Linked DNA regions of Homo sapiens. The protein of the gene in region 2 binds, or shares a complex with, the protein of the main gene of each other region. Each region holds a gene or a part of one and is shown on either strand. Other genes may lie near its edges.

What was found.
Region 1: the proteins of UBA2 (region 2) and UBE2I are in contact, whole or in part, in a crystal structure (PDB 4W5V), measured with the Homo sapiens proteins. Residues at the interface, in NP_005490.1 of Homo sapiens: Asp479, Gln481, Gly485, Lys486, Gly487, Thr488, Ile489, Leu490, Ser492, Ser493, Glu494, Glu497, Thr498, Asn501, Phe509, Asp520, Asp521, Phe522; in NP_003336.1 of Homo sapiens: Ser2, Leu6, Arg13, Lys14, Arg17, Lys18, Val27, Lys30, Asn31, Asp33, Gly34, Thr35, Met36, Asn37, Leu38, Met39, Asp66.

The regions. Positions count from the first base shown.
Region 1 is NC_000016.10:1,319,606-1,326,642, forward strand, and holds part of UBE2I (SUMO-conjugating enzyme UBC9), read left to right. Parts: intron 1-568; coding exon 569-678; intron 679-832; coding exon 833-912; coding exon of another isoform or gene 913-1,054; exon of another isoform or gene 1,055-5,124; coding exon 5,125-5,188; 3' UTR 5,189-7,037. UniProt on the Homo sapiens protein: Accepts the ubiquitin-like proteins SUMO1, SUMO2, SUMO3, SUMO4 and SUMO1P1/SUMO5 from the UBLE1A-UBLE1B E1 complex and catalyzes their covalent attachment to other proteins with the help of an E3 ligase such as RANBP2, CBX4 and ZNF451.
Region 2 is NC_000019.10:34,466,359-34,471,766, forward strand, and holds the end of UBA2 (SUMO-activating enzyme subunit 2), read left to right. Parts: intron 1-519; coding exon 520-656; intron 657-2,681; coding exon 2,682-2,863; 3' UTR 2,864-4,893; downstream 4,894-5,408. UniProt on the Homo sapiens protein: The heterodimer acts as an E1 ligase for SUMO1, SUMO2, SUMO3, and probably SUMO4. It mediates ATP-dependent activation of SUMO proteins followed by formation of a thioester bond between a SUMO protein and a conserved active site cysteine residue on UBA2/SAE2.

The DNA of each region.
Region 1 (7,037 bases), on a different chromosome or scaffold from region 2:
GATGCCCAGGTAAAAGATGGGAAATAGCCTAGAATATCAACTGTGATGGTCCCTGGTGGGGCTAATGGTGGCAAACTTTTCTGCTTTTTTGTAAAGAAATAACACAGGGTCCTAAAAGCCCGTATATCCTGGAAGCAGAGGGTCTGCGTCGGAACAGCCGACTCTGGAAGGGCGTTGGCTATGTCCCTGGACGTCTCCTGCAGCTCCTCCCATCTCCCCTGAGTCTGGCCCAGCTGGAAAGGATGTGGGGGCCACAGGTTAAGTGGCCACCCTGGGGCCTGTGTTCCCAGACTGCCTGGCTGTGCTGGGAGTTCTGTCCTGGGAGAGACACAGCTTCGTCTCGGCTGCGGCCGTGTCCCCAAGGCTCTGTTCCCTGTGTGCAAAGGTGGATATGTCTTCCTTTAGTCTCCTCATGGCCACAATTTAATTTTTTTGAAAAGTTTTTGGCCAAATAACCTGGCTACCAACCCGGGGCCCCAGTGTTGGGAGGAGGGTGATGTGGGGAAGGACGTGACTCTGGGACAGTGCCTGCCTCCAAAAAGTGCTTCCTTTCTTCCTCTTCCTCCAGGTAAATTCGAACCACCATTATTTCACCCGAATGTGTACCCTTCGGGGACAGTGTGCCTGTCCATCTTAGAGGAGGACAAGGACTGGAGGCCAGCCATCACAATCAAACAGGTACGGGGCCTCCGCCTCTGGCACCGGCAGGGCTGCCTTAGTCTCCCCTCCGGACACGTGGGTCTGTGGTCATTCTCTGTGGCTGAGGCCGAGTCTCACGGTGTCTCCCTTTCAAACTGCTCACACCCGTCTTGTGTTTTTGTCTCTGGCACAGATCCTATTAGGAATACAGGAACTTCTAAATGAACCAAATATCCAAGACCCAGCTCAAGCAGAGGCCTACACGATTTACTGGTTAGTAGCAGCCCTGGCCCCGCTGGTGGCAGCTCCTCCCCGTCCCAGCCAAGGCCGCCTGGCAGGACGGGAGTGGAGGACACAGGCTCACCCTACGGACAGCCAGGGTCCACGCCTCTGTGGGGAAGGTCGGGGGGCATAAACCCTGTGGGCAGCAGGCACCGTTGCACACCGTCTGCGGTGGGCATGGATGGCGCCGGAGCCGTGTCCCGGGGAGGGAGCAGGCCAGGTGACGGGCTGTCTTGGGCCACTGCCCCAGTGAGTTGTGGCCAGCTAGGAGGGGAAGGACCCTGGGCGTGGGTGCCAGAGGAGGCCATGCTGAGAGGCCTCTCCACCGGCTCAGCCTCCCATGGACCCCAGCCTCCCGCGCCGCCCTTGCTGCTTGTCCCCATCCCCTCTACAACTTGGTTCCTTCTGTGGGGGGGCCCAGCCCAGCAGGGCTCAGTGACGTGATGCTGTCACACGGACCCTGGGCTTCCACCCTGTCCCTGTGAGGTGCTGCTGTGGCTAGAAGGGTCCCCGTGGGCCTGGGGTCCTGTCTGCACCGAGGAGGGCCTGGTGTGAGTTAGGATGCAGACGACAGCCAAACAGTGCTGGGGAAAGCAGGGAGGACCCTGCCCTGAGCAGAGGCCATGCGCCCGCCTGTCCTGTTCCCTCTGCAGCTGTTCTGGGCAGGTCCATAAGAAGGTGGGTTGGGGCCTCCGACCCCCCACTGCTCCGCCTGCAGCGTTGAGAAACCCAGCCCCATCTCACCACGGGTCCCCACACCTCTGAGGGGGTCTCAGGGCCCCCAATGGCCAGGGACCCAGAAGGCTCACCTGCAGCCACCCCACACATCCCTGCCACTGTGGGCATCAGAGGCCCTCTCCCTCCAGGGTGCATCTCCTGGTCAGGAGGGGGGAGGCTGAGGGGTCCCGGTTGCCTTAGGCCCGGCCTGCACAGGTCGTGAGGAAAAGCACCTGGTTTCGGCCGGGCGCAGTGGCTCACGCTTGTAATCCCAGCACTTTGGGAGGCCGAGGTGGGTGAATCATGCGGTCAGGAGTTCGAGACCAGCCTGGCCAACATGGCGAAACCCTCGTCCCTACTAAAAATACAAAAAATTAGTTGGGCGTAGTGGTGGGTGCCTCTAATCCCAGCTACCTGGGAGGCTGAGACAGGAGAATCACTTGAACCCGGGAGGCGGAAGTTGCAGTGAGCCGAGATCCTGCCACTGCTCTCCAGCCTGGCGACGGAGGAATGCTGTCTCAAAAAAAAAAAAAGCACGTGGTTTTGGAGAGATGTGTTTCTCCCTGGATGCGGGCCCAGCCCAGGTGTCTGCAAGGTGCCCTCCCTGGTGGCCGAGGGTGGCACAGAGGCCCCAGGCAGGGAGCAAGTATCACAGCAGCCACCCCAGGCTCAGCCTGGCTCCCCTGCATGGTGGTGCACACCTGTAGTCCCAGCTATTTGGGAGGCTGAGGTGGGAGGACTGCTTGAGCCCAGGAGGTTGATGCGCAGTGAGTTGAGATTGCAGCACCGCAATCCAGCCTGCTTGACAAAGCGAGACCCTGTCTCAAAAAAAAAAAAAAACTCATAGCCGCTCAGTCAGCCAAGCCATTGCTGGAAGTGGCTCGTGGGACGTGGCGTGACCTGGGTTTGTGTGCTGGCCTGCTGTGCCCTAGGAGTCCGTGAAATGCATTCCCTTGGACAGGAAGCCACAGTGCTCGTGGGTGTCCACATGGCCCTTGAGGCAGAAAATGTTTTCTTTTTTTTTTTTTTTTTTTTTTTTAAACAGAGTCTCACTCTGTCGCCCAGGCTGGAGTGCAGTGGTGTGATCTCAGCTCACTACAACCTCTGCCTCCTGGGTTCAAGTGATTCTCCTGCCTCAGCCTCCCAAGTAGCTGGGATTACAGGCACCCACCACCACACCTGACTAATTTTTGTATTTTTAGTAAAGACAGTGTTTCACCACGTTGGCCAGGCTGGTCTCGAACTTCTGACCTCAGGTGATCCACCCGCCTCGCCTCCCAAAGTGCCGGGATTATAGGCATGAGCCACCGTGCCTGGAAAATGATTTCTAGGCCAAGTGTGGTGGCCCAACACCTGTAATCTCAACACTTTGGGAGGCCAAGGTGGGCTGATTGCTTGAACTCAGGAGTTCATGACTAGACTGGGCAACATAGCGAGACCCTATCTCTACAAAAAATTAAAAAATTTGCCAGGGGTGGTGGCTCATGCCTGTAATCCCAGCACTTTGCAAGGCCACTGTGGGACGTTACCTGAGCCCAGGAGTTGGAGACCAGCCTGGGCCACATGGCAAGACCTGCTCTCTTTAAAAAAAAAAAAAAAAAAAAAATTAAGCCGGGGATGATGGTGCATGCCTGTAGTCCCAGCTATTTGGGAGGCTGAGGTGGGAGGACTGCTTGAGCCCAGGTGGTTGATGCTGCAGTGAGCCAAGATTGCAGCCTGGGTGACAAAGTGAGACCCTGTCTCAAAAAAAAAAAAAAAAGCATGCCGGGCGCGGTGGCTCACGCCTGTAATCCCAGCACTTTGGGAGGCCAAGGTGGGCAGATCACGAGGTCAGGAGATTGAGACCATCCTGGCTAACACGGTGAAACCCCATCTCTAGTAAAAATAAAAAAAATTAGCCGGGCGTGGTGGCGCACACCTGTAACCCCAGCTACTCGGGAGGCTGAGGCAGGAGAATGGCTTGAACCTGGGAGGCGGAGCTTACAGTGAGCCGAGATCACGCCACTGCACTCCAGCCTGGGCAACAGAGCCAGACTCTGTCTCAAAAAAACAAAACAAAAGGCAAATGTTTTCCTGCCTAGCCCTTAGATGGTCTGCCATCCCCAGCATGGTGTGGGCGTGAGCTCTGTCTGGCCTGCACCCCATTTGCCGACCATCTCCAGAGCTGGGCTGTGGCTCCCATCTGCGGCGTGGGCTGGGCAGGGTTGCAGTCCCCCGCCCCGTGTGACTCTCCCCAGCGTCTCCTGGGCTTGGTGCCTGCTGGGCTGCACTGTACACTTGCGTGCACGTAAACAAACGTTCTTTCTCCTACACACATCCGCTTGAAAAGCACCCTTTGTGAAGCATGTGTGCGGGTTTCAGATCGTTTTTCCTGGGTTTCCTGGAGGCCTTGGACCGTGTTCCTGCCCTGGCAGGTGCCTTTTCTCGGGGCCTCTGCTTGGTCAAGGAAGAGCTGGGACGTGTAGCCACCGCCTCTGGTTCCTTCCACGCCCACCCAGCTGAGCTGCTCTGCCCTGGGGCCGGCTGGTGGCCCAAGGAGGGCGCTGGGGTCTGGGCTGCGGTCCAGGCCCTTGGCGTGGGTGGGGGTGGCACCGGCGCTGCTGCCGTCCTGGGCTGTTCCACCATGCAGAGTGAGGCTCAGTGTCTCAGACCAGGTCCAATCCTGGCGAGACTGGCAGGACTGCGACCCCAGGAGCCACCTCCATAAATGTCATGGTGTTCCCCCATCCTCAGGGTCACACTGCACCCTGTGACCCATCAGCCCCTAGGTGCAGCCTCGGCCGCCCTCCCGCCCACCTGTTTTGCCCGGGCAGTGTGTGCCATGCCACTCTCCTGGGCAGCTGCTTGCAGGCTGAGCCTCACTCTACCCAGCTCCAGACCTGTTCGCTGATGCCCCTGCACTGCCCAGCTCGGGCACAACGCCTTCTCAACCAGGCCTGCCTTCCCACACCTTTGCCCCTGCGGCTGAGAGCCTCATGGAAAAACCCTCCAGAAATTGGTGTCTATTTTTGGGAATTAACAAAAACAGTGGCAAGCAGTCAGTGTTTTCAGTTTATTAGGACTGTCCCCAGACCTACAGAAAAGAGAAGCTGCTGATTACTAGTTAGGACCAGACTTGGCATCGGCAACGATGTTGCAGGCCCTGGCGTGGGCCCTCTGGGCCTGAGCCCTCCTCGCAGCCCTGCGGGACCCCTCTGTCCCCCTTGAACACCACGTTCACCCAGCGTGGGTTCCTCTCCTCCCTGCCCTTCTGCCCCCGTCAGACCACGGGACAGTCTCAGCCACGTCAGAGCCAGCATGGGCTCCCCACCACGCAGGCCTCCCTGCTTCTCCGGGCTTCTGCTTCTGTTACTATGACGAGCTCCACACTGCCCTCCCCCAGGAGGTCCCATCCTGCAGCCTGGTCTGCCCAGCTGGCTCCGGGGCGAGCGTGAGGGCCAGGCAGCTCAGCCCTCTAACACGTCTCTTCTCTTTTGACCTCCTCAGCCAAAACAGAGTGGAGTACGAGAAAAGGGTCCGAGCACAAGCCAAGAAGTTTGCGCCCTCATAAGCAGCGACCTTGTGGCATCGTCAAAAGGAAGGGATTGGTTTGGCAAGAACTTGTTTACAACATTTTTGCAAATCTAAAGTTGCTCCATACAATGACTAGTCACCTGGGGGGGTTGGGCGGGCGCCATCTTCCATTGCCGCCGCGGGTGTGCGGTCTCGATTCGCTGAATTGCCCGTTTCCATACAGGGTCTCTTCCTTCGGTCTTTTGTATTTTTGATTGTTATGTAAAACTCGCTTTTATTTTAATATTGATGTCAGTATTTCAACTGCTGTAAAATTATAAACTTTTATACTTGGGTAAGTCCCCCAGGGGCGAGTTCCTCGCTCTGGGATGCAGGCATGCTTCTCACCGTGCAGAGCTGCACTTGGCCTCAGCTGGCTGTATGGAAATGCACCCTCCCTCCTGCCGCTCCTCTCTAGAACCTTCTAGAACCTGGGCTGTGCTGCTTTTGAGCCTCAGACCCCAGGTCAGCATCTCGGTTCTGCGCCACTTCCTTTGTGTTTATATGGCGTTTTGTCTGTGTTGCTGTTTAGAGTAAATAAACTGTTTATATAAAGGTTTTGGTTGCATTATTATCATTGAAAGTGAGAGGAGGCGGCCTCCCAGTGCCCGGCCCTCCCCACCCACCTGCAGCCCCACCGCGGGCCAGGACCAGGCTCTCCATCTGCTTCGGATGCACGCAGGCTGTGAGGCTCTGTCTTGCCCTGGATCTTTGTAAACAGGGCTGTGTACAAAGTGCTGCTGAGGTTTCTGTGCTCCCCGCATCTGCGGGCTGTAGAGCGCTGGGCAGCTAAGATCTGCATAGGTCGGGATTGGCATCGAGACCCTGGCAACTGCACCGGTGCCAGCTGTCTTGGGGGCCACAAGGCCAGGTCCAGACCAGGGCTGGGGGCTGCCTGAGGACTCCTATCCGGGCAGCCTGCTGGCGGGGGTTCCCCTCTTCAGTGGCCAGGTCACAGGGATGGAGCTGCGCTGTGCATAGGGTGCCACCTCAGGTGTCTGTCCCTTGTGTCCTCAGGAGGCAGCCTTGCTACCACCCGTGGCAAACGCCAGGTGCTTTTTCTGGGAGAGCCCACAGCCGTGGCCCTCCAGGGCTTCCCCGACCCTTAGCGCCAGGTAGAGGGCCCTGGGCAGCCTGTGTCTGGAATTCTTCGTCCTGAGGCCACCTGAGTGTGGTCTGTCCTGGGGAGGCTGTGCGCCTCAGCAGCCGTCCTGACGCTGAGCCCTCTGCAAAGGTTGGGCCGGCCAGGCCTCTTGGGGCTGCCTGAGCCACTGCAGGAAGTGGCCTGGCTGGGAAGTTGGGTGCCGGTCACCTCCCAGCAGGAAGGCACAGTGGACAGAGATGGGAAGCCCTGGGGGACACAGCCCGGTGCTCCCAGCCCTCCAACCTCTGGCTCCCAACCCAGTCTCCCCATCCTAGCGAGCTTGGCCCTCCTCAGTTTCGTTTCAAGCCTTGGGGCTGGAGCTGGCCCTGCTGCCCTGGCACCCCCCGGTGGCTGGAGCTGGGTCCCCGTGGCCCAAGTGCAGGGTCCCAAGAGGGCAGGGCGGGGCTCCCCAAAGGAGCAAAGAATGCAGGGAGGGCGGTCCAGGGCCCTGGGAAGGGGAGCTCGGCACCCTCCAGGTCCGTGTGGGACTCCAGCCGCTGTTGGCTGGGAATCGAAGTTAGAGGTGACTTCCAAAGGCCCCCCGAGCCGGCAGTGCCCCCCACCACCCCTCCAGCGACTCTGCGGTGCCAGTGCCTTGTTGGCTTTTCCGGCTACGCACCCTGCAGTCACTGAGCTCTCGGTCTGACGTCTGATGTTTGTGGTTTGTTTATAACACGGGGCCTTACCTGGGGAATTCAGCTGG
Region 2 (5,408 bases):
GTAAGTAGAGGATGTAGAAATCTTTTTTTGGCATTGTAGCTAAAGAAATAATGTCCAAGAGTTGCTTTAGGCCACCAAGCTTTGGACCCAGTTTTATGCTTCAGCAATAAAAGTTATTTACTGTTTTAAAGAAACAAAAAACCAAAACCTTGCCCTGATTTGAAAGTGCATGTAGAGTTTTTGATTATCACAGAAATTTGTTGTGTACCGTCTTTTTTATTATAAGTTCAGTGCTTTGAAAATTAGAATCCAAGGTGGGTATGGTTGGCTCACGCCTGTAATCCCAGCACTTTAGGAGACCAAGGTGGGAGGATGGCTTGAGCCCAAGATTTCAAGACCAGCCTGGGCAACATTATGAGACCCTATCTCTCATTTTTTTTTAAATAAAAATTAAAAAAAAAATTAGAATCCACATATTTGGTGTATACATAGTGTATGCTTTGAGGAACAACAGGATTTCTCTGGTGCTCCTTTGCTTTCTAAATAGTCATAGCAGTGACCTGTGTGATTCTCCTACAGTGAAGACCTAGGAAAGGACGTTGAATTTGAAGTTGTTGGTGATGCCCCGGAAAAAGTGGGGCCCAAACAAGCTGAAGATGCTGCCAAAAGCATAACCAATGGCAGTGATGATGGAGCTCAGCCCTCCACCTCCACAGGTGAGTATGGCCCCAGCCAGCAGGTTGTTAAATACCCACAAAGCAGAAGTAAAAACAAACTGATTATTAGGAACATTGACCATAAATCCATAAAACTACTAGAGGTGTGTATTGGTTTGGTATTGATTGTTGTAATGGAGCTTTGAATTTATGAACCATGAAGACATTTAAGGCTGGGTGTGGTGGCTTACACCTGTAATCCCAGCACTTTGAGAGGCCAAGATGGGAGTATTACTTGAGGCCAGGAGTTGGAGAACAGCCTGGGCAACACAATGAGAGACCCCCATCTCTACAAAGAAAAAAAAAAATTAACCACGCATGGTAGCGTGTACCTGTAGTCTCCGCTACTCAGGAGGCTGAAGTGGTTCACTTGAACCCAGGAGTTCGACACTGCAGTGAGCCATGATTGCACCACTGCACTGCAGCCTGGGCAACAGCAAGACCATGTCTCAAAAAAAAAAAAAAAAAAGTCATTTAAGGCCTGGCATGGTGGCTCACACCTGTAACCCCAACGCTTTGGGAGGCCGAGGCGGGCAGATCGCCTGAGCTCAGGAGTTTGACACTAACCTGGGCAACACAGGGAAATCCCATCTGTACTAAAAATACAAAAAATTAGCTGGGCGTGGCAGCATGCGTCTGTAGTCCCAGCTACTCGGGAGGCTGAGGCAGGAGGCGGAGGTTGCAGTGAGCTGGGATCGCGCCACTGCACTCCATCCAGCCTGGGTGACAGAGCGAGGCTTCCGGCTCCAAACAAACAAGTCATTTAAGACTGGGGGAAATTCTTATGGAAATTTCTTACAGAAAATAAGAACACTTTGTTATTTTTTGTTAATTGGTTTTTAACAGTTTGAAATGATAGTTTACTAGTGTGCAAAGTCAGCCTATGTAGTAGCAGGTTGGGGTTTTGTATGCTTGTTTTAAGGAGCAATAAATCCATGCATCTGACTATTTTGAGTGAACAGGTGCTTGTTAAGTATGGAATTTAGGCATGTTAGAGTTTCCTTGTCACCAGTATGACTTGGGTATAGTCCTTTCCCCTGGATTTTCAGTGCTGGTGCTTGGTATTTTTCCAAATAACTGATTGTTTACTGTATTCTGATTTGAATATTTACTCCTCTCCCTTTCTTCCTTTAGTTAGGAAACTAAAGGTTACCAGATTTTGACTTCTTTGTTTTCATTTCTTTGACCCTATGTCTGTGGCATTCTTTGGAATATGTTTACTCTTGGCTCTAATGTTCTCTTGAGAATTTTGGAGACGAACATTCAGATTATGGCCTGGGTCATTGGTTCATAACCTGTTTTTTCCCCCCTCACTGAAATTAGAAAGGTCCGTCATCTTCCTTTGAGGAAGAGACTATCTGGTAGATTTTCCAAAATCATAATTTGAAATGTACATTTATTGATTCTCTACTGTGGGTAGGTTTCCAAGGTTACAGCCATGAGTAAGATAGGTATTCTGCCTTTGATTTTGTTGGACGAGGAGATAAAACCACCTTTAGTATCAGTTCTGCATTGGGGATGGTTCCTGGCTTCATCCTCTGCTACTATGTAAGCTTGGGAAGTCATTCACTGAGTTTCCTTTCCTGGAAAGCAGATACTCATGTGATCTTCTTTATAGGGTTGTGATGATTAAATGAGTTGTCATATGCACAGTGCTCAGAACAGTTCCTGGCACATTGTAAGTGCTGTATTGTTGTTGCTATTGTTACCACTACTACCATTATTAGAATATGTACCCTCTGCTTTTCTATTGGAGAATGTGGAGGTAGAATCAAGGATGTGTAATGAGTACTTTGAGTTACATAATGCTTGTCACAATTTTTTGTTTTGATTAGAAAATAAATAGGTTCTTATATAAAACATTTAAAACAGTATGGAAATACGTAATGTGTAAAGTGAAAATGCAGCCATTCTTAAGTCTGGTGTGTATTAGAAGAGTCAGCTTTCAATTATAGAAAATACAGGTGAGCACAGGTAACTCCCACGCTTTTACCCATTTTCTTTTTCCCTTTTTTCTGAAATAAGCTCAAGAGCAAGATGACGTTCTCATAGTTGATTCAGATGAAGAAGATTCTTCAAATAATGCCGACGTCAGTGAAGAAGAGAGAAGCCGCAAGAGGAAATTAGATGAGAAAGAGAATCTCAGTGCAAAGAGGTCACGTATAGAACAGAAGGAAGAGCTTGATGATGTCATAGCATTAGATTGAACAGAAATGCCTCTAAACAGAACCCTCTTACTATTTAGTTTATCTGGGCAGAACCAGATTGTTATGTCCTTTGTTCCAAAGGGAAAAAATTGACAGCAGTGACTTGAAAATGATTCTGCTCCCTTTGAAAGCATTCATTTTGCTAGAACTGTTAGACACATTGCAGTATGCTGTATTGAAAGTAGGAATATAGTTTTAAAAACCCTTTGAACAAAGTGTGTGCATAACCAGTCATGAGATAAAACAACACAATGCATGTTGCCTTTTTAATGTAAATACCCGTAGGTATCATTAATAGTTTCAAAATATTGTGGTTTAGTAAAGTTGATACCTGGTTATAAATATTATGCCTTTATTTTTGGCTAGAAGAAGAATTATTTTTAGCCTAGATCTAACCATTTTCATACTCTTAACTGATTGAAACAGATTCAAAGAAGTATCGAGTGCTATGCATTGAAACTTGTTTTTAAATGTTAGATGGCACTATGTATATTAATGTAAAACAATGTTAATTTACTCAAGTTTTCAGTTTGTACCGCCTGGTATGTCTGTGTAAGAAGCCAATTTTTGTGTATTGTTACAGTTTCAGGTTATTTATATTCGATGTTTTGTAAAACTCAAATAACGACTATACTTATGGACCAAATAAATGGCATCTGCATTCTTGTTACACATGCCTGCACAGTTCCTGTTTCTGCTGCCTTATATCTACTGCAGGAATGTCAAATTCTTTTCATTAAAAAAAGAACTCGGTCGGGCACGGTGGCTCATGCCTGTAATCCCAGCACTTTGGAAGGCTGAGGCAGGTGGATCACCTGAGGTCAGTAGTTCAAGACCAACCTGGTCAACATGGTGAAACCCCATCTCTACTAAAAAAAAAAAAAAAAATTAGCCGGGCCTGGTGGCAGGCACCTGTAATTCCAGCTACTCAGGAGGCTAAGGCAGCAGAATTGCTTGAACCCGGGAGGCAGAGGTTGCAGTGAGCCAAGATTGTGCTATTGCTACTCCAGCCAGGGCGATGAGTGAAACTCCATCTCAAAAAAGGTTCAGAAGATCTCCACTGTTTGCCAAAGACGAGTACTTTCTTTTCTTTATTCTTGGAGACTTCACATGTAGGAAGAGTACTTTCTAAAATAAAGCTCTTCCTGCGTGTGGTGGTGGTGCACATCTGTGTTCCAGCTACTCAGGAGGCTGAGGCAGGAGGATGGCTGGAGCCCAGAAGTTCAAGGCCAGCCTGGGTAACATAGCAAGACCCTGTCTCTAAAAAATAAGTAAATAAAATAAAGCTTTTAATGGCAGTGGGTTTTTTGTTCGTTTTTGAGATGAAGCCTCACACTGTCATCTGGCCTGGAGTGCAGTGGCGCGATCCTGGCTCACTGCAGCCTCCGCCTTCCAGGTGCAAGCGATTCTCCTGTCTCAGCCTCCCCTGTAGCTGGGATTACAGGCGCCCTCCACCACGCTCAGCTAATTTTTTGTATTTTTAGTAGAGATGGGGTTTCACTATGTTGGCCAGGCTGGTCTGGAACTCCTGACCTCGTGATCCACCTGCCTCAGCCTCCCAAAGTGCTGGGATTACAGGCGTGAGCCACTGCGCCTGGCCTAATGGCAGTGTTTTTAAAATTTGGATTGTCAGCAGTTGGCCTTTGTTGAGAAAATGTGTGACTTTGCCCAAGCCCAGTAACTTGGAGCCTTGAATTTGAGATGCTGGAAAGGGAGTCCTTCCTCCTTTCTGCAGTGTTTGTCTGGGTTGTCCCCTAGTTTACCAAAGTCCATTTTGAATGTACCATCCCCAGCCCAACTCCAGCCTACAGATAGTGCCAGACCGCCAGTAGGTGGAGTAGCACTGTCTTCCTGGTCCCGGACCTCAGAGGGCTTTGCCTGTTAGGGTACTCTTATCACTCAGAGATGGGCCTTGAGTTTTCAGAGAACAGAAAGCCATTAAGCTGTTTCCCCTATTGTATTCATGTGCCCTTTGTGTTTCTGGCAATAATTTATTTTATATTTCAACTAAATTTTAAATTTCTAATTCATGTATTGTTCCTTGTGTAATTTGTACTGTACCATTCAGCTTATTAACCATTACTCCTTGTTTTCCACCATTTGTAAATTCAGCATGTAATCAGAGCTTTCAGAAAAACCATGTAGAAGACTGGGTGTGGTGGCTCACACCCATAAGCCTTGCACTTTGAGAGGCTGAGGCAGGAGGATCGTTTGAGCCCAGGAGTTTGAGACCAGCCTGAGCAACATGGCAAAACCCCATCTCTACAAAAAATACAAAAAGTAGCTGAGCCTGGTGGCACTTGCCTGTAGCCCCAGCTATTCGGGAGGCTGATGGAGGAGGATCGCTTGAGCCTGGGAGGCGGGGTGTGCAGTGAGCCAAGATTGTACCACTGTACTTCAGACTGGGTGACAGAATGAGACCCTGTCTCTGAAAAGAAAAAAAAAGTCATGTTGACTAAGACTCAGCCTTCTGGAGCCCCAGAGTGGAGTGACTTTCACCTGTGAGCTTCATCTGCCTTTAGGTTTTTAGAAGGTGTTTAATTTT